4 separate regions of the Homo sapiens genome follow, and regions 1, 2 and 4 are each reported to be linked to region 3. The links are microRNA targets in miRTarBase. Many come from high-throughput screens and were not tested one by one. Region 3 holds a microRNA gene; each other region holds the end of a gene's coding sequence.
What was found. Region 3 holds the annotated microRNA hsa-miR-653-5p (GUGUUGAAACAAUCUCUACUG, at 5,089-5,109, opposite strand). A microRNA usually pairs through its seed, bases 2 to 8, with sites in the 3' UTR of a target mRNA and lowers its output. Matches are read on the target gene's strand: a 7mer-m8 pairs with bases 2 to 8, a 7mer-A1 pairs with bases 2 to 7 and ends in A, and an 8mer does both.

Region 1 (7,127 bases), not on the chromosome of region 3:
ATGCTTAAATATCAATGGATTATTTTGATGATTTTTATTTATTTTTAATTTTTTATTTTTTTGAGACAGAGTCTCGCTCTGTCGCCCAGGCTGGAGTGCAATGGCACGGTCTCGGCTCACCACAACCTCCGCCTCCTGGGTTCAAACGATTCTCCTGCCTCAGCCTCCTGAGTAGCTGGGATTACAGGCACCTTCCACTACGCCCAGCTAATTTTTGTATTTTTAGTAGAGACGGGGTTTCACCATGTTGGCCAGGCTGGTCTCGAACTCCTGACCTCAGGTGATCCACCCGCCTCAGCCTCCCAAAGTGCTGGGATTACAGGCGTGAGCCACCACCGCTCCTGGCCTGTTTTGATAATTTTTCCTTCCTAAATGATGAGACTAGAGAGAAGTTAGCCTGCCACTTGCAAGCGTTCTCTTCAAAGAACACGTTGCAGGTGTGAATTCTCTTTGGCTTAAAAACCAAACTGAATATAATTTTCCTTATATTTACTCCATTTAACATTGGCATTTAGATTAAGAGTCATTCTGAGGCCTTGCCTAACATTTTTATTAGATGTATGCAAATAATGGAACCATCAGTGATCATGCGGAGGTAAACTTTCAGAATTAGTGTCTGTTAACTTGGTGTTATAACATCAAAATTCTTTATGCTTCTCATACTCAAATTCACATTGTGAAAATAAATACTTAGAATAAAAGCAATTTTAACTGTTTAATTGCTAAAACTACTTTTCCTTGCTACTGCTATGCAGCTGGATAACTATTTCCAAAATAAATCACAAGCACGCTTTTCTGATCCCTATCTGCTGTGCATGGTTACGTGATATGCAGTTGGAGGCCTGCAATGCTTTTTTTTTTTTTTTTTTTTTTTTGAGACGGAGTCTCGCTCTGTCGCCCAGGCCGGACTGCGGACTGGCAATGCTTTTTATTTTGAAAGGAGAAGCTAAATACTTTCGGATATTTTTAAAGAAAGAGCTAAAAATAACTACCATTTCTGCCTTTACAATGTGATCCCCAAAAGCCTTTCTAAACAAACAGTAGCTGGAAAATGCTGAAAATGAATAAATGGAATCCCTGTCCTTAAAGACATCCCAGCCTGGCAGAAAGATGGATAAGTAAACAACAGTGGGGTGCAGGAACTGATACTGACCATTGATGGGCACAAAGTATTATGGGAACACAGACAGCAGGCACTAACCTGCTTTAGGAATGCCTGGGATGATTTACTAAGAGAACTGCCGTGAAGGATGGCAACTTGGATCGGCCCAGAAGCCTTCCCTGGTACTCACCCAGGGCCTGATGTAGATGTCACTCGGTGGTCCCAGCAGCTTGTCACAGCTGACAGCACACTGCTTATTATTGGTTTACTTGTTCACCTTTCTCCACAAAATGGTAAGCTCCTTAAAAGTAGAAACTTTGTCATTGTATCTACAGTGCCTGCTGATGCATAAGAACTATCTGACAAGTAAATATAAGGAGTCTAGGATGATGAAAATACTTCTTCTCTAAGACGGGCTGATGTTTAAAGACAGTATTTTATGTCTGTACCATGATATGTTTAAAGAATGTGTATTCGTGTTTGAAATGCCAATACCAAATATTAGATGCAAGCACAGGGTCGGGAACCATGGGAGACAAACAAGACACAATCACTGCTCTCCAGAAACTTACAGTGTAAACTGGAGGCTTCACGGTCCCCACCAGGATCTAAACAGGCATATCTTTCATGTGTTTTTATTTTGGAGTTCCACAAAACACTTTTTTTGAATACAGAGCTCCATTTCGTTAAAAAAATTGACAACTCTGATCAAGTAAATAAGAAAGCTGCTTATAGGTAATAGAGTTTCCCCTTCCTTTTTAAGATTAGAAGGAAATTTAGATGAAAGGAATTGAGAATTTACATTTTTAGATGATGTGTTCATATTTCTTTGGATTTCATCTTAGTTTTCCCTCACCAGTTGCCTTTTAGCACCTTTCTAATAGGCAATCTGTAGCAATGTACAGATGTTTACAATAATGAAAGTGCTCATTCTTTCCTATATACTGCAATATCACGTATTTGCTACTATCCAGAAAAAGGTTCTACATATATCCTTTCTAAAGTTACTGTGAAGTATCTTCAAGAACTATACTTCATGACGGTTATTCTAAGGTGTTTAATTCAAAACCACTACCTAATTTCTCTATAGCATGTGGAATTTAACATCCCATTTTCAAAATAGAATGGTTTAAAATTAATTGACTTAAGGAGCTGCAGACCCACATACAGTGAATCTTCTATGAGGTTTACAGGAAAAATGAGCCAAAAGACATATAAGTACAGTATTCTTTATTATAAACAATCAGATAACAGTATAAGTGTGCATTTGATGGATAACCGAAGCCAAGTTATTATAATAGAAAGCATGACTTCACTCAAATAGACAGTTTCTTTGTTGTTGTTAATCTGTTTTACATTAATTTGAATTTAACATATGCTAGGATCACCTAAACTTGTCATACAGTTCTGCTATTAAAATCGTAACAGGGAAAGACAAAATGTGAAATGCATGTTATATTTTGCTTTATTTGTTGAATATATATGTGTGTGTGTGTGTATATATATATATATATATACACACTAAATATTTGGGACACAAAGTTAAGCAGGTGCTTACAGTCTATCAAGTGATATTTATGAAATGTTTTTGTTGCTGTTTTGTTGCTGTTATGGGAACATCCATATCCTTAGAAGACAATAAAAAAGAGGATTCTAAATGCTAGATGGTTGGCTAACTTCTCCTGATTTATACTGAGTGTAAAACAAAACAAAACAAAACATAAGGTATATGTGTTAAGTAGTGACATCTTTATAGTTCCAAAGCACTCGCAGCTATTAAAATATCATCTAGCTAAAACAAACTTTTCACAATTTTTTAACAGAAAAATAATAAACCAACAACAAAAACTGATCAATGTTCTGGGTCTTGTGAGCAGACCGAAATGTTACTACAGTGTTCTCTATTGTGTGATCCTTGTCCGTGGCAACCTTAAACGTGTGCTGCAGTGCTGATGTATTTATAGGCTTAGCATGTCTGCTTTATTAGTTATCCTGGAAAGAATGCTATTCAGTTTTTTTTTTAATGTCTACATCAAGGAATGAATGCTAAATGAGCCCATTTAGCAGCCTGAAATCAAATACTGCATTTATTTTTTGAAACTCTTGGTAGCAAAAGAAAAAGCTGATTAAAATATGATTGTGTTACAATGACTAAAGGGTTAACTTCTCATTAATTCTAAATTCTTCAAAATGTACAAGCATCATAATAAAGGCTTTTGATGAGACATGACTGGTGATGATCATATGTGCCAATTTAATAATTTATTTGTCACAGAAAATTCAGATTCACTGCAATATTGTGTTCTGGCTTCCCAAAGCTGCAGGGAAATACAAGTTTTTTGTTTCTTGATTTTTGTTTAGAGACAGGGTGTCACTTTGTCACCCAGGCTAGAATGAAGTTGTATGATCATAGTTCACTACAGCCCCAAACTCCTGGGCTCAGATGATCCTCCCGCCTTGGCCTCCCAAAGTGCTGGGACTATAGGAATGAGCCACTGCATCCAGATTTTTTTTTTGTTTTTAATGTCATTTATGAGCCACCAGTTTAGATTAATTCTGTAAAGGTGTAAGATTACCAGAGGAAGCCGGGCGCAGTGGCTCACGCCTGTAATCCCAGCACTTTGGGAGGCTGAGGCGGGCGGATCACAAGGTCAAGAGATAGAGACCATTCTGGCTACCATGGTGAAACCCCGTCTCTACTAAAAATATAAAAATTAGCTGGGCGTGGTAGCCTGTAGTCCCAACTACTTGGGAGGCTGAGGCAGGAGAATCACTCGAACCCGGGAGGCAGAGGTTGCAGTGAGCCAAGATCACGCCACTGCACTCTGGCCTGGTGACACAGCGAGACTCCATCTCAAAAAAAAAAAAAAAAAAAAAAAGATTACCAGAGGATAAGTTAGATAGCTGGTAGAGAGATCACGAAAGCTATGTTTGATCTCTGGAGCAAAAACTGTGTTGAAGTTCTCCCATGGAATGGTTCCCATACAAGATTCACCATATTAATGCCTTTTCTAAGAAAAGGGGACATGGAGAATTATTGGAAAACAGGGAAGAAAGGGGAGGAAAAAAAACAACTTTGAGACATGGAAGAAAAGTAGCATTTATACAAGGAATCCATTACCTGACTTTGCAGAAGAGTAAGGAAATAATTTCAAAACAGAGATAAGAAATCAATCACATTCTTTCAAGCAAAAGATGATAGATTACATTATTTTGTTTTGTTTTAAAAGTTCTGAAACATGAAGATGTCTGTACAAACAGATTCACTATTAGGTTCTCGGCTCCCTGAGGGCTGGGACTGTCTCTTATTTACATTTGATTCTACAGTACCTAACATTGTACCTGACACCCATAGGTAGGTGCACAATACATAGTTGATGAACCAATAAACTACAGATTTTTCTATACACTACATGGGCCATATATTACATTTTTCAATGTAAAATGTAATAATTCTTTTCTATGTGTATATATGAAAGTTTCTATTAGCTAACACTAGTAACTGTAAGAGGTGACAGTAGTAGCTCAATCATATATCTTTCTCACATGATCATTTCTACCTTGAATACAATTTAATTAGAAAAACTACCATGTGCACTAATGCTAGAAAGAGTTGAGATAAAATGTATAAATGAAGAAACTTCTTGGATTACTGAAGTGCTGTCTGTTACAAGCATAACTGCCATCTTAAATTGTACATTTTTAAAGAGGGTGTGAAATATTTTTCCAAGCAATGCAGTGTTTAGTGCATGGCAAGTATATATATGAAAGTACCTAGAAATTTGGGGGATTTTCCTCCCTCATCTAAAGTAAAATAAGAACAGGTTTTTAATATTGTGTATATTTTTAAAAGATGTCTTATTATTCAGTACCACTGTTCCCCAGAAATTGCAGATGATTATGAAATTATTATCACTTTCCTTGGGAATTTATTTCCAGGTTAGATAATCACTAGACACTAGGTTAAATAACTCATTGATCCAATAATGTGTCTAGATTTTCTCAAAGTCTTTACTGTTGCTTTAGTGATCTGCAAAGAGTTAATATTTGCCAAGAGGCAGGAAAACGTGGCGAAAGAGTGCCCTTCCCAGGAGACTGGAACGTGGGAAATGAGAAAGTGTAAGTCGACGTGTGATGCTTTTCTCCAACCTTTGGTTTCACCTGCTTCTTGACACAGGACTGAAACACAAGCTATTCTGGCACGCTGCGCAGACTCAAAGTTTGCAGGACTGCCTGACACGAACAACCAGCACGACAGGAACCTGGTCTCCTCTGTGGAAAGCAGGAGTCTCCCTGGGTGGCTGGCTCTTGGACCAAGTTCTGGTCTTATCTTGCAATCTGGGAAACAGCATTTCATGCTATTTTCATATTTATTTTCCCATATTAGACTCTGTTTTTACAGTGGTAGACTGAGGGAACATGACTTTTGGCTTCACAGTTTTTTTTCTTTTCCGATCACAGTTTGTTTAAAATGTACCACTGAATATGAGCACAGGAGCCCAGCTATAGGTATGTCAACCTTAGAAATAAAGTTTCTATGGCCTATCTCATTAATTCATTGTACAAGTTTGTTGTTTTTTTTTTCTTGCCAACAGCACTAAAAGTGACATCATTTAAACTGTAGGGGTTTCACTGCTTTGTTTCATCTGAGTGATATTTGCTTTAGTGCTGCTAATACCTGACTTTTGCTGTATAAACAGTTTCAATGTTTCTGTGAGGCCACACAACATGCTTTATAATGACACGGCTGACTAAAGCTGTCTTTTATTCTGCTAACACCCTTCAAATACTGTTGACAATATCGCCTCTCAAGTGTTTCCTCCCACAAAATCTGCTGCTTATAGCACAGGCACCAAAGTCCTGCTTTTCCAATTGCACTGTACTGGCATCAGGTTAACTAGAAAGCACAAAACAAACGGTGATTAAAAAAAATAAGAACAGTATACATTCTATGTATTTACACATGTTTTTAGAAACTTCAGTTGCAAATCTGAAATGATACAAGCCACTCCCTGCAATAGCCTCTATCCTATGGAAATGCAGCTTAAGACATGACTGTTAAGACACTGAAGAAATGGGGTTATGTGGAGAGCCCATCTGAGTCAGAACTTTGTCCAGCCACTGCAGTGGCCCATGAAGATGAATCTCAATCCAGCAGGGGGTGCTGGTGACATCCTGGCGATGATACTCAGCACCCCAACCCTGAAAAACAAGAAAGGAGCTGAGTGATGGTGCCACACTTACACTCAGCCTCCAGAGCCCCAGGCAGAGCTCAGCGGGGCACAGAGCCCACACCCCAGCGTAGCTCCTGAGACCTGAGAGGGAGAGAACATGGCCTCTACCTTCCTGTAAACACAGGTCAACTCTCACACCAACCAGATGCCTTCAGATGAATCCAAATCAGTGCATTCCCTCAGGGTTCACAACTGAATACTCGGATCTAGAGAGGTTCTGGCACTCCAGTCACACGGGAAGCACTGAAAAATCATTTTCCCTTCCACAAAGGAAGAAACTTGACCTTTTGTTCACCCCTTCATGCCCAGGACAGTGTCTTGCACAAAATGGTTACTGCAGACCAGTGACTGGACCTGAAAGTGGTAAAGACAGAACTGGAAGGCGCTCTTGGTTTTTCAGGGCTCATTATCAAAGCTTGCTTATTCTCTCTCTCTCTCTCTCTCTAGTTCAACTGGCAATTTCCCTTTTATCACCATTCAAAGGAGAGACAGTTAAAATTTTTTTTTTTAATTTGCATATTTTTCTCTATATGTTATATATCAATGAAAGGATATTTAAAAATGAAGGGAGATCACAGCCAAGTAAATCAGTTCTGTGACTGGGAGCAGTGATTCTCTGTAGAGTTTTTTAAAACTTGGATTTCAACACAACCATGCTGCCTGATCACATTTTACTTTCATGACTGAGAACCTCAAGTGGACCTGTGATGTCCCCGGCAGTCACAACCCACCCCCCAGTCCCTTCTCTCATGTCCCCCTCCTAGGTGATCGCTCCTCCCCACTAAAACCTG
Region 2 (7,127 bases), not on the chromosome of region 3:
GTGCTGGGATTACAGGCATGAACCCAGTGCTCCTGGCCTGCTTGTGTGTGTTGATCTTCCTCATTGGATACAAACTCCTGGAGGCCCAGGAACCATCTCTTTCTCCCTTGCTGTTCCTTGGACCCTCTGTGTGCCCAGGACTGACATGGGCCGACCTGTCTCTGACGAGCAGTGAGTCGACCCTCCATCAAGCTGCCCGTAGCTCACTAATATGTATGCTGCACCCTCCCAAAATGAAAATTACATCGAAAGTTGTAATATATATATATATATATATATATGATATAAGCACACAGATTTTTTAAAAAGCCAATTGAAATGGAAAATTAAGAAAGATGACTCTAGATACTTAAAAAGTCACAAGCACAGCCCATTAATTTCTTCACATTTTCCTTCTCCCTCATGAAGCAGAAAACTCTATCAGAGAAGCAAAGCTTTAAAAATACAATTCTTGCTAGCCTGGAGCAGAAAATACTAATACAAGCACTTAAAAAATGTGTACAGCAAATCTGGGTGACTTCAGTTTCCTTAGGACAAGCTCTTTTTTCTTTAATAAAGGGAAAACATTACATCTTTATTTTCATTAACCTGAACATTGGCGCTTCCTTCAAGAATGCACCTAGGCAAGGAACCTCTCTAATATTAGGAGTTCCCGTAATGTGCCAAACATAGAAATCTCTGATATTTTTATTTCCATCAATGCTTTTGCAGGTATCTAAATGCTCATCACTATTTTGAGTTTCCGGGGGATGTAAGATTAACTACTAGATTGTGTTATTTAATGCATAAAGAAGTATATATATTACACCACAATTTCTAAAAATTGTTGGTAATTGTATGTAAACATAATTGCTTTCATCTGTGATCTCAGGGTTTTTATGTGTATTTCCATAATACTGAGGAGTTTATAGCCTTTCTCAAACTGCCAGAGGTGTTGACCTATGGCACAGAAAGAGCTAAGTTGCTCATTTCAATCTATTTTACATAAAGCCAAATTTTATTGCAGCATAAATCATGGACCAAACTGACAATGTTTCCCTCATGCCAGAAAATGATTCATTAAGGAATATAATGGTTCTTGGTATACACTTCATTGAGCTCCATCCCTGCAAGCTTCCTCTTTGACCTCTTAAAATCCAAGCTGGTTTTGATGCATTCATTGGTGGACAACTTTTCGCACATCTCTTACATTGGTTGTAAACATAGCATGAAGCCCATTCTATTCAGTCCAATAGCCAAAGCCATCTTATTTGGAGATGCATTTCTATTGCAGAGATAGGAACAATTCCTTCAAGAAACCAGTATTGACTGTGCTAGGCTCTTGGGATTCAGAGATGAGCCAAGACAAGGTCACTGTCCTCAAGGAGCTCAGTGTGTGACTCTGCCAGGTGGGGAAGGAAAGGTGCCACAGCCTGGACACAGCTTAGACCAACACAGGGAGGTTTACAAAAAGATGGTCAAGGGAGTGCTGGAGGAAGTCCGTGTGTGCGAGGACATAGCAAAGGGGGTGAGCCCAGAGTTGACCACACAGAAGGATGCAGGAAGGGCTCCTGTGAAAGGAGTCCTTTGTCCTATGGATAGGGGAGGACAGAATTGGAGGGAGGACCAGGGGGAGGGTGTTGGAGTAGCTTGGTCAAAAAGAAAGAGGATGAGCATCCAGGAAAAAAAAGTCTTAATTCTGGTCATGGCAGTAGGAATGGTTGTGAAACCTATGAGTTGCTGGAATCTGGACCACTGATGGGGAAAGGTCCCAGGACCGAGTCTGAGCTTGGGCACTACTGTGGGGTGATGGATACTCAGAGGGGCTGGGGGCTGGAGGATTACAAAATAACTGACTTGACACATGCCCCAAGTGACTTGACAGAAAGATGGCCAGGTGCAGATCAAGGCAAGAATTAATCAGGGACAAAATTTTCCTTTCGTCGAGAAGTCAGAGCCTAACTCTTTTCTAACTAAATCTTTTCTCCTGAATGAGGTCCTAAAGAACATCTACAAATACCATAATGTTATGTTAATTATCATTCTCAACAACATCAATGTCAAAATCAGTATCAATGAAAAACTGGAGGTTTAACTGAACTGCTTGGCCTGGCCTCGGAGTATTAGGGAGAAAAGCCATTTATATTCAGACTGGTACTGACCAATTGTGAACACATTTAGGCCAAGAAAAAATAGTGTGGAAGGGGTGTTCTTGTTGCTGGAAATAATCTGGCTGTGACCATCTCACACCAGTTAGAATGGTGATCATTAAAAAGTCAGGAAACAACAGGTGCTGGAGAGGATGTGGAGAAATAGGAACACTTTTACACCGTTGGTGGAACTGTAAACTAGTTCAAGCATTGTGGAAGACAGTGTGGCGATTCCTCAGGGATCTAGAACTAGAAATACCATTTGACCCAGCCATCCCATTACTGGGTATATACCCAAAGGATTATAAATCATGCTGCTATAAAGACACATGAACACGTATGTTTATTGCAGCACTATTCACAATAGCAAAGACTTGGAACCAACCCAAATGTCCAACAATGATAGACTGGATTAAGAAAATGTGGCACATATACACCATGGAATACTATGCAGCCGTAAAAAATGATGAGTTCATGTCCTTTGTAGGGACATGGATGAAGCTGGAAACTATCATTCTCAGCAAACTGTTGCAAGGACAAAAAACCAAACATCGCATGTTCTCACTCATAGGTGGGAATTGAACAATGAGAACACATGGACACAGGAAGGGGAACATCACACACTGGGGCCTGTTGTGGAGTGGGGGGAGGGGGGAGGGATAGCATTAGGAGATATACCTAATGTAAATGACAAGTTAATGGGTGCAGCACACCAACATGGCACATGTATACATATGTAACAAACCTGCACGTTGTGCACATGTACCCTAGAACTTAAAGTATAAAAACAAAAACAAAAAAAAAAACAAGACAGCATCTTTAACTTGGTTGCACCATCGACAATGAATAACACGGTTCTAAGCTTCAGTTTCCTTCTCTGAAAATAGGAATAATAATAAAATTAATAATAATATTTTAAAAAAATAATAATCCAGCTGTGGTAGGGATGTTTCCCAGTTAAGAACAAGCTGCATTCCCCGCCAGCTTGTGGATTACAGTGATCATCTGGGTCTAAAAGCAACACCAGCCACTGTAACAGCTAACTCACCTTCTCGGTGGCCAATCATAGTTTTATCTCTCTAGATACCGTGTGACAGACACTTTGCTGAACAGAGCTTACTGGGGGTCCCTAAGGGATCTGGGGTCCTTCTATCTGCCCCTGCCTCACCTTTAGGGACTTGGAGTTCCTCCTGATCAGTTGGAAGAAGGGAGGATTTCTGGAAGGTTCCTGTGAGCCAGACTCAACAGCAGGCGGCCCATAGCATTCTGGTTCCCATCTCCTAGCTGGACCGCACCTGACTGCAAGGGAGATGGGGAAAGACAGCCCAGTCGCTGGCTCAGGAAGAGGATGGGTCTTGGGGGAACATGGCAGTCCATCAGAAGAGCTTTCTCCTTTTAAGAATTGCCTTCCTCCACCCTGGCTTTGCTTTGTGTTGGGCGGAGGGCACCAAGATAGATTAAACCTGATTCGTGCACTGTTCTTCCCAAGCAGGCTACGCCCAAAGGGCCAGGCATGGAGCAGGGTGGTGAGTGAATTGTGCCTCTCAAAAAGACGTGTCCAAGTCCTAAACCCCGCTGTGAATGTGACCCTACTTAGAAACAGGGTCATCATAGGTGTGATCAAGTTAAGATGAGGTCTTGATGGATTAGGGTGGGCTCTAAATCCTATGACTGGTGTCCTTAGAGAGAGATTTAGTCACAGACATGGAGAACAAGCGACCATGTGATACCTTGATTTCAGACATCTGGCCTCAAAAACGGTGACAGCACACATTTCTGTTGTCCTTAGCCATGCAGGGCACTTTGTTACGGCAGTCCTGAGTTAAGGTCCCTGCCTCTCTTATTGGCTGTGTAAATTATGGGACCACATTGAGCCCTGTCCTTAACTGCAAAATGGGTATGAGGACCCAGCTGGTAGGTGATGCATGGTGGAATTAACACAGGTACAAGCGGTGGAAAGCATCCAGGTAACAGAGGGCTTGTGCTCACTCCACAAGTCCCAGCCACGTGGAGGGTTTAGCCTCTCCTTGCCCCACGTACCGTGTCGTCGATGCTGCCGACACACTGGTCCCCAGGGCTGGTCTGTTGGTGGTCTAGCTGGCTCCCACTCAGCCTTCAAGCCTTTCATCAAAGTCATGTTCCCAAGAAAGATTTCCATTAGCCCCATTCCTCCCCCTACCTCCAGGTGGAGCTGGTCTCCATTAGGAGTCCTTCACTCCTTTCTCCCCCACAACACGGTCTTCCTAAAGCACGGTCTGCCCTTGTTTGCCACAATCAGCACTTCAAGGCTGACACCTGACACACAGAAATGACTCCATCCTAAACTTTCTATTTCGGGACTGGGGTTGCCAATTCATGGGACCCAGAAAACAGCAAGTCATCGATGTGCTTTCCTTTGGGTGCCTGGTATAACACCAATTCCCATTTGGTTAGTGGTGACTGAGTGACTCGTGTTTCAAGAGCAAATTAAATGAATAGCAAGAAAATAGACACCTGCCACACCAGCTGTCCTACTGTCATCTAGGGGTGACTATTTTGGGGAGGCAGCCATTGGTGTATGTATAAATACGTACATTAGGTTTCATGTTTGTTTTATTTAAAGTCTGGTTGGGTACAGAAAACACACACACACTTAACAGGTTAAAATATCCAAATAAAATTTACTGCAACTTTTGTAGAATTTTATTTGTGCTACAAGACACGTTGCATAGGAAACTATTTAAAGCCCCTGAGGAAAAAATATCCATGGTTTAAGGTGCAACTGGTTTTGTTTCTTCTTTGGGGAAAAGGTGATAGATGGTCTCTGGGAGAAATTATGGGGTGGAGTTGAGAAGCACAATCGAAGGTTATATGGTGGGATGATTGGCGAATTGTGTGTCCTGGTTCTTGCAGCATAAAATAGCTAATGTTTGTTCTTTTTTTCAGTCCGTTGGTCTTCAGTATCTGAATAAGTAGCTATACAACGTTTCAGGCCAGTAAGGGAGTATACATTGATTATACTAAGGAAGTAACATGTTTCAAGAAAGCAGTTTTAGAGAATGAGATTCGGGATCCCAAATGGTCCCTGACAACTGCAGGCACACAGGAAGTGTCCTGGCACGTTGCTAAGGATCACCTCACTCTACTGATTTGCCAGTATCAGTCCTTCCTCCTGCTCCCTTCCAACACGCGACATCTACGACGCATTGTGAGATTCACACAGCATGTCTGCACCCTAAAGTTATTAATGCAACACTGTGTCAAGTTCCTGATTTTATGTGAGTCACATTTTCATTTTTACAAAATGCTCATCTTGCTCAGATGATCTTTACATTGTACAAAAAATGGTTTCATCTAAACTATGACTTCCTTCCGAGGAGACACAGGTACACCAGGAAGGAAGAGGGGTTAAGCCTTAGATGAAATGAAATGCAGAGTTTGGCAAATGGCAGCTGGCACCTCTGCACATCAGCATAAGGCGTTGCTTGTGAGGCCAACCACAGCATCTGCAATAAGCACGAGAGTCAGTGGCCACCAAGGCTCTGATTCGGTCATGAAGTTTTCTTCCTGTCCACAGAAGAGGCAGCAAACTCTATGGGAAGCACTGCTTTGACCTCAAGGAAAAAACAGTACAATGGCCTCGTAGCAGCAGGGACCACCTCACTCTCAAATGGCATTGTTCTTGTCAATGACTAATTGCACACTGGCAGGGGCCCTAAAGACTGTCAACTCATGGCTGCTTTCTAATCTATTGGCAGAAACAGCTCAGGGCACCTAAATGCTAATGCGGGACTTCACTCTGCCCACTGAAGCTCACCAAAGATTCACATATTCTATGGATGGTCATTTACTACGAGTGAGGCAAAGCACGGAAGACAATCAAATCCGAGGAGGGAGCAGGACCTGGGGCCTTCTCAGAAAGAATGAGCTGTACCCGTTTACTGAAAAGCCACTTTTTCCCACGTGATTCACCTTCTTACACGCAGGGAGTGAAAGAGGTCCAACAACCGAACGAGCATCTTTCCGGGCTGAGTGTTGAAATGCAAAGTGTGGCCGGGAATCAGAAACGCTCCCAGTGACCTTTAAATACCTATATACATCTCTAACATAATTTAAAAAGGTCTATAACAACATAAAAACCTCAACAGCCTGTGCCCCTATTTTCTTTTAAACCTTTATGGTCCATAAAAAAATTAGATACCACCTTTCTCATAGATCCCTTCCCCCCATTCGTTAAAAAAGTGATTTTAAATTTAAATTTATACTTAACAAATAGAAAGCTATGTGATTGGCAACGAGCTGCAGTAGGCAGTCCCTTCAGGCCTCTCCCTCGATGGAGGAGGGCGGCGCATGATGGGTGTAGCCTAGCTGGCGGGCCCTAAATCTGTCTGAGCAGCCGCCCCTTCCTCCCTCTTCAGCTCCGCGGTGACAGCAGGGCACGCAGGGCAGAAGAGGGCTTGCACTCCAGAGCAGCAGGAGGGGAGGGGACCCATTCAAATCACGAAGTCGTCCTGGTCCGCAGGGCTGAAGGCGGCTGCTCTCAGAACGTCCAGGGAGTTCACCAAGATCAGAGTCCCAGTGAGGTGCTTCCAGCGCTTGGTGATGGGGTTTTTCATCTTGTCCAGGCCCAGGTGCAGCTCCTGGATGACATCCCGGTAGCTGTCCCCGATCTGATGGCTCCAGGTGAGTAAGAAGTCATACGCAGGCTTCCACATGGCCTGGGAGGTGGAGTTGTAAAAAACAAAAGGAGGGAGAGAGGAAGAAAGATTAGGAGACAGAACGAGATTTGTTCCTATTACTTGGTGCAGCTTCAGTAGTCACTATTTGGGACACTCTTTCACGAGTGAGACAAGCCCACAGAAGAAACAGTGGAACCATCTCGGGGCCAGGGTCAGCACATTCCAGAGGGAAAAGCAGGGCTTTGTGCAAGAGTAGGTGCGCAACAAATGAATAAACAGAAAGGACTTCTCTTTCCTTACAATCTTTATGGCACTTTCTCTCTGTGCCATTTGTTTGGAA
Region 3 (7,127 bases):
AAGACGATATTACAAGTAGCTGAGCTCACTACACCAGTCATAACCAACCACATTTCAAACAAGCCAAGTCATTTATTTTGGAAATAAAGTTTCAAATAGGCTTAGCATATCTGTGACCAAATTATCTCATTGGATGACAAGCAGGGTTCTATTTCTACTTTGTAAAAGGTTCCAAAGTTGAGTGCATCAAAAAAGCAAATGCCCCAAAGACTGCAAGACCCTCTCTCAAAAAAAAAAAAAAAAAAAAAAAAAAAAAAAAAATTCTACCTAAAACCATGAAGATTTACTTCTATAAAGGTATGTATTCAAAAGAATCAGATCCAGGCTTTCAAGAAAGCTCTCAAAAATTATTTAAAAAATGAAAAGAGCTCTCAGAAAACCCCAAAAATATCAGTTCTGTGTTTTTATTGTCTCACTGGCTTCAACGAAATTGTTTCTCCTTTGGTCAGAGTTATGTCTAATGCCTGTTCAGTTCTTGATAAACACTGAAATTACTGCAGACAGAAGAATAATATGTATCTGCCTTTCAGTTGACTTGATGTTTTTGTTTAAAGGAAAATGGTAAAAATAAGAACTACAAACTAAAACTTGAACTATTTGAAAGCAAAGAATGTGCAGTAACAGAGTATATTTTACCATTTTTTTCCCTACCAAGTTGGGTTGTCTTAAAATGTACATGGTAGTAGGCCAGATGCAGTGTCTCACGCCTGTAATCCTAGCACTTTGGGAACCTCTCCTGAGCCCAGGAGTTGGAGACCAGCATGGACAACATGGCAAAACCCCATCTCTACAAAAAAATACAAAAATTTGCTGGGCATGGTGGCATGCACCTGTAGTCCCAACTGCTCAGGAGGCTAAAGTGGGAGGATCGTCCTGGGCGAGAGAGTGAGACCCTGTCTTAAATATATATATATATATATATATATAGTAAAAGATCTTATTGAATCTTTTCAAATGCCTCAGGGGACAAGTAGGAGAATTTAAAGGGATGTTGCAATGAGCTTGCCCATCACATCTCCCCTTTTGTTTTTCTATGGGTCCTCTACAGCTAATAGAATATGTTTAGACCTGAAAATATCTGGGCAGTCACATACAGCCATTCTAGAGAAGCTGGTAGATAAACAATGTCTGGCTAGGAGGTACCTTTTTGTAATTCTCCTGGAAAGTGGGGCCAGAAAGTGTGGAAGAATAGTATGGGTTGCCAACCAATTGACAGTTAAAGGGAAGATACTACCTAATTAATCCAAGCAAGATAGGGTTTGATAGGGTCCACCTCAGGCAAATTCTCTGCCCTCTATTTTCCAATTCCCTTTCCTGTCATTTTGTACATCCCCTCCCTCACTCGGTCCTTTACTGTTCCGGCTCACCAGGTGTGAATACTGAATTATTGCGGTAATTTTATCATGAGGGCAGATGTTAGCCAAATTGCAGTCAGATGAACTTGGGCAAAGAAATTAGGCATATGCACTGCATGAAATACACAAACATACCATAGTGTGAAAACTGCTGTGAAAACTGCTGGCATATTAAATTAAAATTATTCAACACATATTTAACCACAAAAGAAAATGTCTGTAATGGTGTTTCAAACATATGTTCATATATATCCTTCTCTTTACCTTCTCCTTGGTATGCGGGTAACTGCTGCATTCGGTCATAGCATTTGTACTGTGCATCCATCATCTTCTTTCGTCCTACGACGTAAAGAAATGGCTTGGGCTCTATTGTTGGATAGGTTTGATTTGAAAAGGCAGGAAGAATTGGGGTTGGGTGCTGTATTAAAAAGAAAAATCAGTTACTTATAGACAGGAGGAATGGGTGAGCACAAATAAATGAGACAATGAAAAAGTTTGAAAACATTTATTTTTGCTCTCTAAGCAATACTTATTCATGGTCTCTATGTACAGTTTTTTTCATATATATTACAAAAAATGTTTTCACATTTCATCTACAAATTCTACTGGCACATTTTACATTTGCATTAGTTTCCATTTACTATTGAAAATGGATAACACCTACACACTCATATACCTCTTTATCAGCTAGGATTGTTTTAACTGTATTATGATTCTAAAGTTTAGAAGTAAACAAAACAAATAATCTAATTTCCAAAAAATACAAATATGAAATCAACTTTGCCTTACTCTTAAGAATCATGAATCATGTTATTAAAAAATAGACATAGTTCAATAAATATGCTTTTTTATTTGATTCTTTCAGCTAAATTTTATTGGTGCTGTGTACACTGCCAGAAATTTATCCCATCTATTCCATGGAACAAACAAAATATGTTTTCTGCTCCTCATAATTGACCATAATCTCCTTAAATTGGTTTCAACAGCAGATGACCTGTACAGGGCAATTCATGTTCACTAATGAAAAATCAATGTATTTCTTAGATATTTATCTCAGCACATTTGCATTTTGGTACAGATTGACAATAGTTTTTTTCAGTTTCAGTTAATCATCACCATCACAAGCCTCTCTTTTTCAAAGGTAATGTGGGTGTTTGAAAAGATCACTCTGTCACACTGTTCTTCCTAACTTGTGTTTATAAAGATTTCAATTTCTTTTGTGGCTATGACCAATGTTTTTAGTGGTGTTGGAATCTGCGAATTTTTAATATCCATGTTCTGCATAGAGATTTTTTTTTCTTTTTTTGAGGAGACCTAAAAACATCAGCCTGCACTGACTTTCCTTTTTCTAAATTTAGGAATGCTGCTTAATTTCTATCATACCCGTTGAAATTTCAATTCTAAGATTGAAGTTTCTCCAATTGTATTGATGGCAGAAGTGGTGTTATGTACTCTTCTATATGTGCTAGTTTCTAAACAAAACTCATCCCTATTAAGTTGACATGTATATTCCTGGCTCTTCATGGTGAATCCTCACTGTTTTCCATGTGTGTCATTGTATATGTCCTACACGACAGCACATCACTAACTGCTAAGCTGTCCAGCACAGAATCCAATCAAAATTCAGAGTTTGGAGAGAGTAGGGAGCAAAAATATTCAGGATGGCTACAGATACAAGGTAGAATTTGAATTGTATCTTGAGTGTGGGAAGTTTCTGCATAGGCACAAGGGGGGGTCGAGAAGCCTTTTGGGATGGAGGGACCTTTCCCACAAAAGTCTGGAGGTTGGAAATGACATGCATGAGCCACTGTGAGAAAACCATCTTGCCTGAAGGGGAGCATATTTGAGGGTAAGAAGGTCAGGACTTTGCTTTCAAGACTGCATTATCTGAATCTTCAGATAACAAAAAAAGAGTTAAAACTTGTTTTGTCACTTTGAGCAGGTTAGCAACCTCTCACTAGATCTGTTTCCTCAACCTAGGAAACGTAAAATAAGAAGAGCGGTAAGAATAATATTTATCATCTGTCATGTTGTGAGGATGAACAAGACAATAAACACCAAGTGTCAGGGACATGAAAGGTTCAAAACATTTTAGCTAATATTGTTAAAACATGGTATATAACATAATATATATGATAAAGATGTTTTGTAGATTTTTGATCAGTGAAGGTTGTGAAAGGAGAATTTTTAGTAAAATTCATGCAGCAGGCATCAGATGTCCACAGGTTAAAGTTGCGGGGTGGGGTGGGGGCAGCCAGGAAGTTGAAGGCCTGGCTGGACTAGATCAGTCCATGTTGGAACAAGAAAGTACCACTCTTAGCACCTTCTCAATAATAAAAACATGAAGGCATATTTGAATACAAGGAATGGGAAACAGTAATAGTCAAATAGCCCAGATAATTAGCCTAGATATTTGGGGAAAAAAATAGTTCCCAAGAAAGGGAAGATGCTGGGAAAGGAAAACCTTATTAGGGGGAACTTCTCCCCCTTGGTAAGTAAGTCCTATTTTGGGTTAGATTTGGAGATGGTAGCAAGCCATCCTAGTGGAAATATCTTGCAAAGAGAAGAGGGTGAATACTTATCATTATTATAACATTACTGTGATAACTTCAAATGGACACCAATTGTGAATAAGGTTGACACTACTCTTTAAACATTTTGTTGATTTCTAATTTTAATGTCTCTTGAATTTATGTCAGAAGAGAAAGTAATGAACCCATAAAAATGATTATAACTGTGCAAATCCTTTACCAGTGTAGCTGAACACAATTCTTTTGATATATGACACTTTCCCCACTGGTCTTCAGATCAGTCAGCAAATATTGATCAAACTTGATGAGCCCAACATTGTGCCAGATGCTGAGGATACAGTGCTGAATAAAATAAGTGTAGACTGTGCTCTCATAGAGCTTACAGTCTGGCAAGATGGACCAACACTATAAAATATATTTCTGATACTTGAAATTATGAACAATAAAGAATCATCAGTCATAAAATTCTTAGATATTCCTAATGGAATTGGAACACGATTTGCAAAATTTTTAAAAAAGAGTAATTTGAAGGGATTCCATGTTGAGGTTTCTTTTTTTAGTTTATTACTCAACTTTTGTATGAATATGTGTGTTTTAAAAATTCAATTACATATTAGGCAACCATCAAAACAAGAATGGATCATGATGCCTTCACAATAGAGATATTAATTATTGGTTCAACTTATACATTTATTTTAGATTCTTCTTTTGTGGCTCTAAAATCTTCAGTTAATATGAGAATGATCATTTGATGTATTATTAATTTCTGGACCATTTTCTCACCATCTTCAAATCGAATTAGAAGATGGAACATGATGTCATATATAAATCTTATCTGTCACTTGTATTAGATATGCTAAACACTGGGAAGTATTTTGTTTAAATCTGGCTTTCTTCCCAAAAGTAACATTCTGAATTCTCTTTTTATATGGCTGACAACCAACCAAGAGATTTTCTTGCTCTAGTTGGAAATTCATGGAAACCATAGGCAAATAGTATGTCCGAGGATAACAAGTAGAAAACCCTATGCTTGTATTTTCAATTATATTTTTATTTGCTTTAATGCAGTTTTAACATCAGTAACAGTGGAAATACGACAATCTGTATACGAGTAGTTATAATTCATGCTGATGAAAGTAGCTTCCATCTTATCATTCTTGCAATATTGAAACAAACTCCAGTGAACTTGTTTGAAGCTGGTTCAGTAGAGATTGTTTCAACACTGAAGGAATGAAAAATTAGAACCTCTGTTGTCAGATGAGCAGTAATAATCTGCATCAGTTCCTGGTCTGGTTCATATTTGAGCACTGAAGATGGAATTTTCCCAACAGTAGATGAATGTCTCAGTGGCCTTCTTCCTAAAATAACATACCCATTGGGGCATTACGTTTATACATACAGTCATCCCTTGGTATACTCAGGGGATTGGTTGCAGGACCTCCTGTGGATACCAAAATCTGAGGATGCTTAGGTACTTCATATAAAATGGTGTAGTATTTGCATATGTGGATACCAAAATCTGAGGATGCTTAGGTCCTTCATATAAAATGGTGTAGTATTTGCATATAACCTATGTACATCCTCCTGTATTATTTAAATCATCCCCAGATTATTTATACCTAGTACAATGTAAATATGATGTAAATAGTTGTTATACTGTATTATTTAGGAAATAATAAAAAGAAAAATAGTCTGTATGTTTACAATACAATTTTTTCCTGAATATTTTCTATCCAAGATTGGTTCAATCTATGGATGTACAACCCATGGATACAGAGGGCTGACTGTATAGATAGATAGATAGATAGATAGATAGATAGATAGATAGATAGATAGACAGACAGATAGATAGATATAAACATATAAATATATGTATATGTATGATTTTATGTATATTATATATATATAATTACAATCATGGAATTACTACTGCTTAAAAATAACACATATACAAATTTCATAAAGTTTATTAAATGTTAAACTTTTGCTGATAATTTTATACAAATAAGAATTGCTGGGAAGGTGGTATCATTTTCAGCAATACAGAGACAAAATAAAACCAGTAGTGATTGGATGAAACTACCAAACAATGTAAGAGACTTCAAATATCCTACTTATTATAAGTGTTATGTCTATACTACTTATTTCAGGGGGTTAAATAAAAATATGATTATATGTTCACATTCAGATAGAAATGAGATATTAAGGGCATATTGTTTTTCTGAATAAACATCAGTTTTCAAAGCTTTGCATATAAACCATCTTACATGATTTTTCAACATACAAACAAACAAAACTCTTAATTGTTGTCCCATGTAGCAGTTTAGCTGCCGTATATGTGATGTCACTCCTAAAGGTTCAAGTAAATGGCGTCACACATACGACCACCAAGCTGCCACCAACAGCAGTAGTCAGCAGCCCAAACATCATCAGTTTTTTTCAGTCGACAAATACTTTGAGTGCCTCTCACATGTCAGGCACTCTTCTAGGTTCTGGAAATTCAGCAGTGAACCAAACTGGCAAGCCACCTGCTCTCATAGAGCTTACATTCTTGATTTTATCCACACTAATCATGGAATCCACAGGAAAGGAATCTGATTTGAAATGGTCATATGCTTATGCAATTCCTACTGTGATGTAGGACAGTCAGTTTGCTTTTGGGTTACAGGCAGTTTCTAGAAGTACAGAGACAGTTACAGAGCTGTTCTTCATGGAACTTTGAGAAATGGTCCATCTCTGCAATAGTTCAAGCCCACTGAGTGTATGGACCCAAGCTGCTGTGCTGAAGGGAGAGCTTCCTATTGATTGCCACATGCAAAACTACTCTAAAAAGTATGTAAACCTAGAATCCACAAACTGATGCAACCAATGAGATTTTCATGTCACCATCCTTAATGTTGATAATGTATATAATTATTTTTGCTTTTCAGTTACTTACACATTTCAAAATAAGAAAGGACAAAGCACACTGTTGTAAAAAGTGTTAGCCCTGGTTTTCCCAGGTAAGATCAGATGCCTGGCTGGTGTACTGTGTAATTCTACTTACATTATATAAACAACGAAACTGCATATATCATAAATTCAAAGCAAATAGGTGAACATAGATAAGTAAACAAGTAACAATAACACCTGCTCTGAAGAACCTAATTTTTATGTCTTTGTTATTACCATTGGCTTTGTTGTCATCAGCATCGTCACTGGCATCTTTTTCTGAGAGCTCACTGTATACCAACTGCTGCTC
Region 4 (7,127 bases), not on the chromosome of region 3:
TTTGTATATCTGAAATTGCTCATAATTGTTTTAATGCATATGGATATGATACAGATACTGGCTTAGCCAAGGTAAAACAAGAGGAGAATTAAGCAGTCATCTCTTGACAAGAAACTATCCCCATTACAGAAGTCTAGATTTTGCCTTCCTTTTTTTTTTTTTTTTTTTTTTTTTTGGACATGGAGGCTCGCTCTGTAGCCCAGGTTGGAGTGCAATGGCGCGATCTTTTTGTATTTGTAGTGGCTAATTTTTGTATTTGTAGTGGAAAAGGGTTTCACCATATTGGCCAGGCTGCTCTTGAACTCCTGACCTCAAGTGATTCGCCCGCCTTGGCCTCCCAAAGTTCTGGGATTACAGGCGTGAACCACCATGCCCGGCCCTAGATTTTGCCTTCTTTATGTAATAATCTTTAATGCCCTCAGAATCCCTCAAACCGATGTCCCTGAATTTCATAACCATCAAAGTTATCTAGCCTAAGTACAAAGTTCAGTTTTCCTGAGAACTTAAGTATCTCACAGATTGAGTCAGTGGTCTTCTTCATGAATGTATTACAGAAACAAATTGAGGGACATAACTCTCAGATATTAAATTTTTCTCTACTGCACACACTCATTTTTCACTTCACACCCCAAGAGCTTCCTGTTTAGTCACCATGAACTTCCTTTTTTTTTTCTTTGCTTGACCTTAAGGACTGTGTTCTTTATGCATTTCTTGATCCAGGCATGGCAGTTCCTCTTTTCCTGTACATATTCACACTCCTGCCACTTCTACCCTTTCTCTTATCCCTCTGCTTTTCACCTCTGACTGTAAAAAGAAGTAGCAGTTCCGAAAGCAAGAGTTCCCTATGAACACGGAAGGAAATATTCATTGCATACTTGAGTGTTTAGGAGCTAGAGGGTTTGGGAGAAAAACTCCCCAAGTTTTGTGACTGACTTTCTAGCTGGGCCTTTATAATATATATGATGTGCTTTTCCTTTTTTGTTTCCTCTTTCTTTCTAATAGAGACTACCCAGTAAAGAACTACCAGATTCATCATCTCCAGTTCCAGCAAACAACATCCGTGTCATCAAAAATTCCATTCGACTGACCCTTAATCGGTAAAAGCAGTGCCTCCTCACTTAAGTGAACAAGCAATCATTTAGTGGCATAGATGCAGCCACTTGTTTTTTAAATAGAAGTGGCTGTCATACGTGAAATAAGGTGAAAGTGACAGCCTTCAGTCTAATAACCTTGAAGTGGTTTTTGAACTGTCAAACTTTGACCTGTAGATGCTGTAGCATTCTCTCACTGATTGCTACATACACTTCTCTGAGGATCACCTGCTGTCAAATTGCCATCTACAGTATTACAGCTTTGCATTTGGGGGTTTTACTGCCTTAACTTTCAATGCTTGTTATGGGAACCAGTTCTTAGCCACTTGGACACTGATAACAAGTCCTGAACTCCTTTTTTGTTTTGTTTTTTGTGTTTTTCTTTTTTTGTCTTATGTTGTAATCATTGTATAGAGCTAAAAAAATTGAAAACAAACAAAAAAATTGTCTTGTATTTTCCAAATGTTAATACATTTACTTTAGCATTGAAGCCACTTTGAAACCTGAGATAAATGAATGTGAGGTATCTTTTCTGCTTTCCTCATTTGTGTAGATGTACTGTCTGTTCTGTTGATTTAAATTATTTTTTTCCAGATTGGCACATGAAATATTTAAACTTTTTTGTGTGCCTTTCTGTCCAAATGTTGCATAGTTACCAGGGAAGATTAGTCCAGTGATTACATAAGAGTTGGGCACCATAAATTCTCTATATTTTGCCTCCCATGGAGGCCTTTGAAATGCATCTTTATTAAAAATCAAAATATAACCAGGATACTGAAAGTCAGTATATGAATGGTAAAATTGTTACATATCCTATTTCATGCCATTCTTGTTAGTTGACTGGTATTTTTTACTGAGGAGCAACTCATTCCAGCATCAACAATAAGATAACCTTTAAGTATGGCACACTTGTATTTTTGAGGTGTAAAATTAACTTGGCATGATAATTCCTGATCATTATTTACCCCACAACTTCAAATAGTTTCTTCACGGACTAGGCATGCAGAAATAAGCAGTGGATTTTATTGAAACCTAAAGGCATTTTGAATGACATTGTTACCAACCATTAATTGGCTCAGGACCTTTGTAATTTTTATTTAACTATATGAGTTGTCTTTTTTTACGCTGCTTTTTTCAATGCATTTCTTAATATTTTTTAAGTTTCATGAATGCATGCTCAGTTTATTAAAATCCATAACCATGTAATTCTTGTAATATGTTGATTCAGTGTTTTGTAAATGAAGTCGTATGTATTTTCAGAGTATTTTTGTATGTACTGTAAGATACCATCTTTTCAAAGAGAAACGTTTAAAACCTTTATTGTCTCTCCTTAGTCTAATTTTTTAAATATGGATTATGCTTGAATTACTATATTTAAAATGAAAATGTATAGATTACACAGCCAGGAATGCTAGTATCTACCACCTTCTTTAGATTTCACTCAGCATTTAGTAGGTCCAGTAGGAAAAACCCAAAATGGTACATTGAGTAGTGTGGGGAAGACACCTCGTGTATTATAGGACTCACGGGATGCCATCTAGCAAGTGGAGAAATAGCAGTCCATTTTCTCTTGCAAGCCCTTTACCATTGAGTTGAAATTCTTGAATTGCCAGAGAGCCGTATCCTCCAGGTCCCACTCCTGTTCATTGCCCCTTAGGTCTCCAAAATGTAAATTCTAATGTTTACCTTGTACCATGGAAAACATGAAAAGAGTCTTAGAAGTAAAGAACAACAAGGAAAAAAATGTTTGTTCTATTATTCCCTTTTTATATAGCAGCAAAAGATAAGAATAAAATCACATAACCAAGTTGAAGCTTCCTTGGCAAAGCTGTTGTCTTAGCTGACTCTTTCCCTTTATTCAGATGTTTTGGGATTGTTCTACAAATAGTCTATTTGAGCAAAAATGAATGATTATGAAAGAACCGAAGAATTATCACCTGACTTCAACTTTTGAAAGCTTTAGTAAGGAATTTGATTAAATTTTATATACTGGATGTGTATGCATTTCTGCATTTCATATCTTTTGCTTTTAAATCAGCCTTCAAAGTATCTTTAGGAATTCCTTCTGTATCCATGTTTACCCCATTATGTAAATAGATCTTTGGAGTGACTAGTGGAGTTTTTCTTTAATAAGGAAGCAACAAGTCTAACCTTGTACTATAGGATAGGCATTTATTTTAGATTAAGGAGCCCATTCAACATGTCAATGAGTCAACATTAGAGTCCTCAAAGATAGCATTCTTCAACCTGTTTGGTAACTGAGGAGTTGATAAAATACTTTTGAGATGGTGGGGTTTGTCAGAAATAAAATATTTTCTATCCTGACCAGTAGGTAGAACTTTGAGTACATTTCGTTAACTTGGTGGGAAGCTTCCATTGTACTAGTTCCAAGTAAAAAAGGAGAAAGTATGATCTGGGATTTTGTGTTATGATGAGAGGCACTAAGTACATGTGTTTGTTTTGTTTTGTTTTGTTTTGTTTTGTTTTGTTTGAGACAGAGTTTTGCTCTTGTTGCCCAGGCTGGAGTGCAGTAGCCCAATCTCGGCTCACTGCAACCTTCACCTCCCGAGTTCAAGCTATTCTCTTGCCTCAGCCTCCCAAGTAGCTGGGATTACAGGCACCCACCACCTCGCCCAGCTAATTTTTGTATTTTTAGTACAGACAGCGTTTCACCATGTTGGCCAGGCTGGTCTCGAACTTGTGACCTCAGGTGATCCACCTGCCTCGGCGTCCCAAAGTGCTGGGATTACAGGCGTGAACCACCGCACCCGGCCGTGTTTGTTTTCAAGTGTGAAAAAATACCTAGAAGTATATTTTATGAAGTCAAATAATCTGTTCTTCAGTATATAGACACATGTTCATTTTCACAAGGGCATTACATTTTAATTTGCTCATTTTTCAGTAGCTCTGGAGAATATGTATGAAAGGAAAACAATTACCTGCTAGCTTAAACCTTAGGGACTTAACCAATTCAAGATAGAGGTACATGGCTTAAAACTTTGTAAAACTGGGACAGGAGAATTATTATTTTTTTATTTTTTATTTTTTTATGAAGACAAGAGTTTCACTCTGTCACCCAGTCTGGAGCACAGTGGCATGATCTCACCTCACTGCAACCTCTGCCTCCCGGGTTCAAGTGATTCTCTTGCCTCAGCCTCCCAAGTAGCTGGAATTACAGGCCTGTGCCATGCCCAGCTAATTTTCGTATTTTCAGTAGAAATGGGATTTCACCATGTTGGCCAGGGTGGTCTTGAACTCCTCACCTCAAGTGATCTGGCTGCTTCGGCCACCCTAAGTGCTGGGATTACAGGCATAAGCTACTGTGCCCAGCCAGGAGAATGAATTTTAAAAATCTATGTTAGTGTTTAAAATGAGTGCTTTGTTTTAAAGCAGCAATTTAGTAGCATTATTAAAATGCTTACTTCACTATAGTAGCAATTAGGTAAAGATGGGCAATATCAAAATGGGCTAAACTTATTTTCCACTATGTTCCACACCTTTGAAATAGGAATTCCTAACTTGAGAATCATGAACCCTTAGGGAATCCTTTATAATTGTGTATAAGAAGTTCTAGTTTACATGCATTTTTCTTGGGGAAAGTGCATAGTTTAGATCAGCTTCTCGAAGTGGCAAAAGTATGGGAGTTAGGGTTAGGAACCACCAGGATTGAATAATCCTGGAATATTATATAATTTTCTACTTTTGATTTTGCTGTGGTATATTTCTGAAAATGTGCTGTGGCTCCTAACTAGTAAAATGGGCTGGTGAGGGACTCTGGAATTCTGAATTTCTAAGTTTATAACCTAAAATGAAACTGTAAAGTCCTCGGTATTTAGAAAAATGCTTAATCTCAGATTTACAGATGGCCTCATGATAACTTAGATTCGTTAACAGGGTCAAACTTTAGTTCAACAAATTTCAACCCAATATTATCACAGTACAATAGCTTAGAATGATCATTAGAAATGGTAGAAAATAGAATAAATCATTAAAGATCCCAAAATGTTGAGTTCTGTAGCATGAAAACTCTCTTGCTCCTCCATGTTTGTAGTTCAGGCCAGAACAAACTAAACAGACCAATAAATATAAAAGTGATAGTTTAGGGAAAAAAAAAAACTTTGTATAAATAAAATTGTATGTGTGTTCAAATAACTACCTATTAAATCATCCAAAGCTTAGAATTTAAATTGGTCATAGTAGCAAATAGTGCAGATGATGGAAGAAAACCAGTCTCAATAATGGTTTTTTTTTTCCAATTGCATAAGGTCACGTCATCCCCCAAATTGTCTATTTTTTCTTTTCTTTTTTTTTAAGATGGAGTCTCGCTCCGTCACCCAGGCTGGAATGCAGTGGCGCAATCTTGGCTCATTGCAACCTCCACCTCCCAGGTGCAAGCGATTCTCCTACCTCAGCCTCCCAAGTAGCTGGGACTACAGGCGCCCGCCACCATGTGGGCCTGGCTAATTTTTGTAGAGATGGGGTTTCAACATGTTGGCCAGGCTGGTCTCAAACTCCTGACCTCCAGTGATGCACCCGCCTCGGCCTCCCAAAGTTCTGGGATTACAGGCGTGAGCCACCGTGCCCAGCCCCTATTTTTTCTGAAATAATTTTTCGGATATACTTTTATATTTGAAATTAGTTGAACATAAGATGATCATCAAGCTTGCTATAAGTTTTAAGCTATTGCTACATTTGAACAAAGACCCACGTACTTATCTTAGAAAGTACTTAGGATATCTTTGAGATTAATGGTGCTACATCACTCTACAGTACTATGTAAAATGAATGGAGCTGCTGTTCCTTTCTAGCTAGCTGTTTGTGTAGTTCATATTAATTTACCCTGCCTTTTATTTGGATTGTCTGATTTCTTAGTTGTACACATGAACCTCATTATTTGCCTGGAATAAGTAATCAAATAAAATTGCTTTGATAAATAGGTGATGATTGAGTGATGTTATTTGGGACTAACTCAAAAGTACCAGAAGTCTTAACTTTTCAGTGACAACCAATTTTGTCATTTACCACTCAGACTCTTTTTGGTAGATAATGGTATCTACTACCCACTTAGTATGAATGCAAAGCTCAGACCTAATGTGCATCACACAGAATCATTTATTAAACGTTTATCAGCAAGCGGTGGCACAACAGTTTATACAGTCTGCTCTATAACCTTAATGGAGTGTCCCAGCTTTCTGTCCCTTTTGGTGGTCTGACCACCCTTTCATGAAAAGGCCACTTGAGGTGTCTATGTCAAGCACTAGGGGCAAAATTCTGTCACCCTTCTGATCAGGATCAGGCAATCAGTCCTCCGTACTAATAATGGCTGGACACAGGATCAAGCTGTGGGTACTATGCATACAAGTACAGGTTACAGGGCTCGTTACATTCTTAAACCTCTTGTAAGAATGGACAGTGACTGGTTTTTAGCCAATCCATGTGCTAGTGCTGAATTCACAAATAAGAGCTTGTGTCTGCGTCGTTAGTATTACTAGCAAGCTGTTCATGTCACCAATGGAAACACATTTGACATTTATTAAGCTAATTGGCAAAGTCTGCATTGATTGAGCTATGGATAACAAGGGCTTCTAGTAGTCACTTTTGAAGTGTGGGCTTCTCGATTGGATTGCTAGGTGGCCATCTCTGGAGTGTAAATTTCTGGTTGGGGCAACTCACTGCTCCTAGGACATAACATACTAACACAATTACCATGCTGTGATAAAATGTTTTCTAAAGTCAATTAACATCATAACAGGTTCTTCGTGGATCCAAATGTGTTACAGTACTAAGGACAAAAATAAAACGTATTGGGGTCGGGTGCAGTGGCTCACACCTGTAATCCTAGCACGCTGGGAGGCTGAGGCAGGTGGATCATTTGAGGTCAGGAGTTCAAGACCAGCCTGGCCAAGATGGTGAAGTCCCGTCTCTACTAAAAATACAAAAATTAGCCAGGTGGTAGTGGCATGCACCTGTAATCCCAGCTACTCAGGAGGCTGAGGCAGAATTGCTTGAGCCTGTGAGGCAGAGTTGCTGTGAGCC

Region 1: miRTarBase lists SMAD9 as a target of hsa-miR-653-5p. Seed matches in the 3' UTR shown: 7mer-m8 at 4,056-4,062 and 8mer at 2,572-2,579.
Region 2: the mRNA of SH3BP4 is a reported target of hsa-miR-653-5p. Seed matches in the 3' UTR shown: 7mer-m8 at 6,142-6,148.
Region 4: miRTarBase lists PAPOLG as a target of hsa-miR-653-5p. Seed matches in the 3' UTR shown: 7mer-A1 at 1,968-1,974, 7mer-m8 at 3,286-3,292, 8mer at 4,999-5,006 and 7mer-m8 at 5,574-5,580.

The regions. Positions count from the first base shown.
Region 1 is chr13:36,842,516-36,849,642 of GRCh38, forward strand. It overlaps SMAD9 (SMAD family member 9), which reads right to left. Exons shown (of 7, transcript NM_001127217.3): 7 at 2,316-6,304. The coding sequence ends at 6,161. Among named protein-coding and RNA genes, the nearest start is that of RFXAP, 27 kb to the left of the region's middle.
Region 2 is chr2:235,053,291-235,060,417 of GRCh38, reverse strand. SH3BP4 (SH3 domain binding protein 4) reads right to left here. Exons shown (of 6, transcript NM_014521.3): 6 at 4,704-6,826. The coding sequence ends at 6,602. Among named protein-coding and RNA genes, the nearest start is that of SH3BP4, 100 kb to the right of the region's middle. RefSeq lists a silencer at 4,259-4,553.
Region 3 is chr7:93,477,735-93,484,861 of GRCh38, forward strand. MIR653 (microRNA 653) reads right to left here and starts at 5,121; the gene lies at 5,026-5,121. It overlaps CALCR (calcitonin receptor), which reads right to left. Exons shown (of 14, transcript NM_001742.4): 4 at 1,620-1,773. MIR489 (microRNA 489) reads right to left here and starts at 6,285; the gene lies at 6,202-6,285.
Region 4 is chr2:60,796,060-60,803,186 of GRCh38, forward strand. PAPOLG (poly(A) polymerase gamma) reads left to right here. Exons shown (of 22, transcript NM_022894.4): 22 at 1,003-6,027. The coding sequence ends at 1,101. Among named protein-coding and RNA genes, the nearest start is that of PAPOLG, 43 kb to the left of the region's middle.